Linked DNA regions of Homo sapiens: region 2 is linked to region 1. Evidence: fine-mapped expression QTL. A gene starts in region 1. The other region holds a variant in brackets. All regions are shown on one strand. Distances are between the middles of the regions. Region 1 holds the start of SIRT2 (sirtuin 2). Region 2 holds the start of RINL (Ras and Rab interactor like).

Region 1 (2,900 bases):
TTAATGAAAATTAACGAGACTATAAAGCTGGTTGAGATCAATATTCAGTGCCTCCTGGATCAGGCCCTGCTTGCATCACTGGGCATACAGCAGTAAACACAACAGACAAAAAACCCAGTACAATCCCTCATCTGGGCCTTTGCAACTGCAGTTCCTTCTCCTTGAAATGCTCTTATCTTGTTTATCTATTGCCTCATTTTCCTGCTTTATTTTTCTCCAAAGTACTTAACTACCTCTGACTTTATTTCCTTTTCTTACTTTCTATGTTTCTTTCTTTCTGCGTGTCTTTCTTTGTTTCTTCCTGTCTTTCCATTTCTTTCCTTCCTTGTGGTCTTATCAATCTGTTTATTTAGCTCCACTAAAATGTATGCTCCACAAGGGCTTAAGTTTTTGTTTGTTTTCTTCACTGCCTTTATCACTAGCACCTAAACGGAGCCTGGAACGTGGTAATGTGTAAAGAATATTTGTTTAACAGATGAATCCTTGGTCTCATGGAGCTAACATTCTTTTTTTTAATTTTCCTATTTTTTTACTTTAATTAGGAATTCAACATAGAAGAGCTTACATTCTCTCTCTTTGAATTTAAGATTTGAAGAACACTGCTCAGAAGACAGGATCTTAGAGTCAGGGACCAAGTATTAATTTCGGAAATCAAACTCTAGGGCTCAAATCGGGAACTAAGAATCAAAGATCATATTTGGAGGTTAGAAGTCAGGAGAAGCCACAGTTCTAACAGAAGTCTCAGGACTGGAGTCAGGTTTGGGTATCAGTGGATACAATGTGGATTCCAGGAGCTGAGAATCATAGTTCAAGAAAAGAAGGTAAGAAATGATTGGGTTAGGATCATAGCTAGATAGAAGATTGGTTTTGTTAAAAGTTAGGACTCGGGGGTTAGAGGTCAGGAAGTTCAGCATCGGAAGTCAGATTTAGGAGTATGAGGTTAGGAAGCCTCAGGGATCAGAGATTAATGAGGAATGTGACGCCGGGTCCTAGGGCTCCGTTTGGCAGCCTAAGGTTCACTCACGTGTCCCCATCCTCAGTGACGTAGCCGAAGACGAGGGGAGCCCACGACAGCCCCGGGCCCAACTCCGCGCCCAACCCAGGTCCTCCGGGGGCCGCTGCGTCCGGACCCAGGGAGCCCAGGCCGCTGTCGCACCATTCATCTGCGTCGGCAGCTTTTCCCAAGCACGCGACCCCAGCCATGGCCCCCGCCGCCTCAGGGGCCCCCCGCAGTCGCCCGCCTGTAGCTGGGCTTTGCCGGGAGTTCTGGAGCTTCCGCCCTGCGGGAAATTCCCCACCACGCCCCCTGATTCACCCAATGATAATATGCTGAATCGCTCACACCCCGCCCTCGTACTGCATCCTGACCAATCAGAGTATTCGGGAGGACTACAACTCTCTAGCCGTTCCCACATTTTCCGGGCGCCCTTTACCAACATGGCTGCTGACGCCACGCCTTCTGGGACTCGTAGTCCGGTCCTCGCGCGCTTTCTTACCTAACTGGGGCGCTCTGGGTGTTGTACGAAAGCGCGTCTGCGGCCGCAATGTCTGCTGAGAGTTGTAGTTCTGTGCCCTATCACGGCCACTCCCATTTCTGGTGCCGTCACGGGACAGAGCAGTCGGTGACAGGACAGAGCAGTCGGTGACGGGACACAGTGGTTGGTGACGGGACAGAGCGGTCGGTGACAGCCTCAAGGGCTTCAGCACCGCGCCCATGGCAGAGCCAGACCGTGAGTCGGGGATCCGGGTAGGAGGGTCGGGCCGCGCCGGGGCCTGGCTGAATGCTGCAGGCCCCGGGGCCCAAGGGTGGCCGCGGTGGGGCGGGAAGTAGGGAGCGCTTCGGGGAGTGGGATTCTGAGGGCTGTTGCTTAGCGATCTGTATCGCTAGGCTGGTGGGTTTCTGGGTCGCAGTGTGTTCAGGGTTCGTTTACCACATCCACTTGCCAAGTTGCCAATGATCGCGTGTTTCTCGCACCTTGGTTGCTAAGGTCCCTCGCTGCAAAGAACATAAGTTGCCCCGGTCCCGCTTGCTATGGGTACCTGATTGTTAGAGGCAACCAGAGGATGCTGAGGGACCCCTGCTGACCCCTCCTATGGCTTCCCCTTGTTCCGCGCCTCTCCTAAACCTACCGCCTCCACTGCACCACTGCACCTCCCTCCTAAACCTGCCTCCCAGCCAAAGCGTCTCTTCCCTTCTCTTTTCCTTTCTAAACTTCCCTCTGCCTTGTAAATCTAACCCTCCCCGCACACACACTCACACACTGTCGTGTCCTTCCTAACTCCTCCTGAGTGTTCCTTCATGCCCTGAATCCCCTAGGTAGGAGGAGGAGGATCGCTTGAGCCCAGGAATTTGAGGCTGCAGTGAGCTATGATCGCACTATTGCACTCCAACCTGGGTGACATGAGCGAGACCCTTTCTCTAAAAAGTAAAAAAGAAAGAAAGTAAGTCAGGGCCAGAAACAATGGCTCATGCTTGTAATCCCAGTACTTTGGGAGGCCAAGGTGGTTGGATCGCTTGAGCCCAGGAGTTCAAGACCAGCCTGGGCAAAAGCCCCTACTTTCTCCCTGTCCCCCTAAATCTTCCTCTCCAGCCTCTCTGCCCCTCACTAATCACCTCTCCCGGCATCACTTTGCATGTAGATAAGATCTTTTCTCCGTCCCCTCCCTCCCTCTGCTCCATTTTTACCACCATCCCATCCCAGTGTAACTAGGTTGGTGGGTGTTCTTGCCCCCTCACTGACCATTTGAACCCCTTTATTCCCCCCTTAATCGTTCTCCCCACTGTAACCACCTCTGCTCCCCTCCCCCAGCCTCTCACCCTCTGGAGACCCAGGCAGGGAAGGTGCAGGAGGCTCAGGTGAGATGGGGGAAAGGGTGGAGGGGAGGAGAGAGACGGACTT
Region 2 (2,900 bases), 21 kb after region 1:
CCAGCCTGACCAACATGGTGAAACCCCGTCTCTACTAATAATACAAAATTAGCCGGGCATGGTGCTGGGCACCTGTCATCCAGGCTACTCGGGAGGTTGAGGCGGGAGAATCACTTGAACCCAGGAGGTGGAGGTTGCAGTGAGCCGAGATCACATCATTGCACTCCAGCCTGGGCAACAAGAGTGAAACTTTGTCTCAAAAAAAACCAAAAAAACAACAACAAAAAAAAAACAAAGTCACAGAGCTAGGATACAAACCCAGGCCACCTGGCTCCAGGGTCTGTGCTCTTAGCTCTCCCTTCCCTGCTCCTGCCCCTGACCCACCCCCTCCCTGACAGTCGGACCCTTTCCTGGGGATGATTATGGGCCTCGGAGGAGGCATGGACTTTGACTCCAAGAAGGCCTACAGGTGAGGCCCCGCCGGGGGTTGGGGCAGCCTGGAAGGGACAGGGTGAGGTGGGAGCGGGGGCACGAAGGCAGATGAGAGGAGCAGGCAGGGGCGAGCCCGCCTGGGAACTCTGATCTCCTGCTGCACCGCAGGGACGTGGCCTGGCTGGGTGAATGCGACCAGGGCTGCCTGGCCCTTGCTGAGCTCCTTGGATGGAAGGTGAGGAGCTGAGCAACCCCAGCCTGTCCTGAGCCCCATCCCTGGACCCTCTCCCCACCCCATGGGTCCTCTGACCCCATGATGCACAGTGACCTTTGACTTCTGTGACCTTTGCTCCTGCAGAAGGAGCTGGAGGACCTTGTCCGGAGGGAGCACGCCAGCATAGATGCCCAGTCGGGGGCGGGGGTCCCCAACCCCAGCACTTCAGCTTCCCCCAAGAAGTCCCCGCCACCTGCCAAGGACGAGGCCAGGACAACAGAGAGGGAGAAACCCCAGTGACAGCTGCATCTCCCAGGCGGGATGCCGAGCTCCTCAGGGACAGCTGAGCCCCAACCGGGCCTGGCCCCCTCTTAACCAGCAGTTCTTGTCTGGGGAGCTCAGAACATCCCCCAATCTCTTACAGCTCCCTCCCCAAAACTGGGGTCCCAGCAACCCTGGCCCCCAACCCCAGCAAATCTCTAACACCTCCTAGAGGCCAAGGCTTAAACAGGCATCTCTACCAGCCCCACTGTCTCTAACCACTCCTGGGCTAAGGAGTAACCTCCCTCATCTCTAACTGCCCCCACGGGGCCAGGGCTACCCCAGAACTTTTAACTCTTCCAGGACAGGGAGCTTCGGGCCCCCACTCTGTCTCCTGCCCCCGGGGGCCTGTGGCTAAGTAAACCATACCTAACCTACCCCAGTGTGGGTGTGGGCCTCTGAAT[A/C]TAACCCACACCCAGCGTAGGGGGAGTCTGAGCCGGGAGGGCTCCCGAGTCTCTGCCTTCAGCTCCCAAAGTGGGTGGTGGGCCCCCTTCACGTGGGACCCACTTCCCATGCTGGATGGGCAGAAGACATTGCTTATTGGAGACAAATTAAAAACAAAAACAACTAACAATCCGGTCTGGCCTCCTGTTTCTTTCTGTGGGCACCCAGGGAAATCTCTGAAGGGAGGGGGTTAGATCTTGGGCCACTAAGGAACCAGAAAGTCTCCGGGATCCAGAGTGAGGGGTAACAAGAGGGTCCTCACGGGGGCCCTCGTGGCTCTGACCCCTGGACTCCCAGCCTGCCAGTGTCCCTTCCTCTAAGCCCCGTCACTAAAGGCCTGAGGCCCCAGAAAGAGGGAGGAAAGTTGACTTCAGATACCCCAGCCCCGCCTCTTCCCCCTGCCTGCTCAGCTTCCTCTCTCCACTTCCTGCTACTGCAGGCCTCTCCTCCGAGAACAGGTAGGGCCCCCAGGAACCGAGCATCTGGCATCTTCAGCCCCTGCTGCCTCCCTTTGGTATGAGGCAGCTGCCCTGACCCACCCCTGCCACGCACTGCCCACAGCCTCCTCTCCTGCCACGGTACACAAGCAGGCATCTGCTTCCCTCTCCCCTCCCCTCCCCTCCCTTCCTTCCTGCTCTTGCCTGGGCAGGGCACCTGCGCCTCCCTGCCCACCTCCCTCCTTCCTAATAACACCCTGGCCTTCTGGTCAATGGCCTAATGTATTTGTTTAGCTGCCTATTATCCATATGCTACACCTGCCCCAAACAAGAATGGAAGGCCCTGAGGGGAGGAGCCTGTCCTGTTCATCACCCTCTCTCCAGGGCAGAGGCACCTAATTCCAGCCTGTATTCAGTAAATACTGGATGGATGGAAGGAAGGAAGGAAGGGAGGGAGGGAGGGAGGGAGGATGGATCCTCCCCCGATCCAGGTCTCCTGCTCCTGGGACTGCTGCTGGGATAAGTGCCACCCTAAGTGATAACCTACGTAGGACTCTGTACCTGGTTAGGAGCTGGGGCCTGATGGGTGGATGAAGAGAGAGAGGAACAGATGTGTGATAAAGCAAGATGAGTAAAATGTTCATGGTAGAATCTTGGTAGTGGGCATAGGGATGTTTCCTGTACAATTCTTTCAGCTTTTCTCTATGTCTGAAATTTTTCATAATAAAATGCTGGGGGAAGAGATTCAGTGGCCCCTCCATGGTGTGGGAAGGGAGGAAGAGGGGATGTTATTACCTTTCCAGATATAGGGACTGCCTACTCTGGGCCAAGAACTTTTCCAGGCGCTGACTGGGTTTTGCCAAGGGCTGGCCCACATTTACACAGCCCCCATGGCTGTTAAAAATCTTAACATATTTCCTACCACTTCAGTAAAGAGCTATTGTTTTGAGTCCTCTCCCCACACCGCAAGACACACTGGCCTCTCTCCTGGGATCCCCAGATTCCCCACCATCCGGTACTAAAGATTTAACCCCTGCCGGCCGGGTGTGGTGGCTCATGCCTGTAATCTCAGCACTTTGGGAGGCCGAGGCGGGGGGATCACTTGAGGTCAG

Evidence for each region. PIP is the estimated chance that this variant, and not a neighbour inherited with it, causes the effect.
Region 2: its variant is fine-mapped to the expression of SIRT2 in whole blood (TOPMed, PIP above 0.99).

Annotation. Positions count from the first base shown.
Region 1 is chr19:38,898,336-38,901,235 of GRCh38, reverse strand. SIRT2 (sirtuin 2) reads left to right here and starts at 1,618. Exons shown (of 16, transcript NM_012237.4): 1 at 1,618-1,730; 2 at 2,811-2,857. The coding sequence starts at 1,715. NFKBIB (NFKB inhibitor beta) reads right to left here and starts at 1,267. Exons shown (of 6, transcript NM_002503.5): 1 at 1,025-1,267. The coding sequence starts at 1,203.
Region 2 is chr19:38,877,141-38,880,040 of GRCh38, reverse strand. It overlaps RINL (Ras and Rab interactor like), which reads left to right and starts at 1,766. Exons shown (of 12, transcript NM_001195833.2): 1 at 1,766-1,809. SIRT2 (sirtuin 2) reads left to right here. Exons shown (of 16, transcript NM_012237.4): 14 at 339-409; 15 at 541-607; 16 at 731-1,481. The coding sequence ends at 886. RefSeq lists enhancers at 1,130-1,229, 1,270-1,389 and a silencer at 1,930-1,979. The variant A/C (reference allele first, on the strand shown) is at 1,312.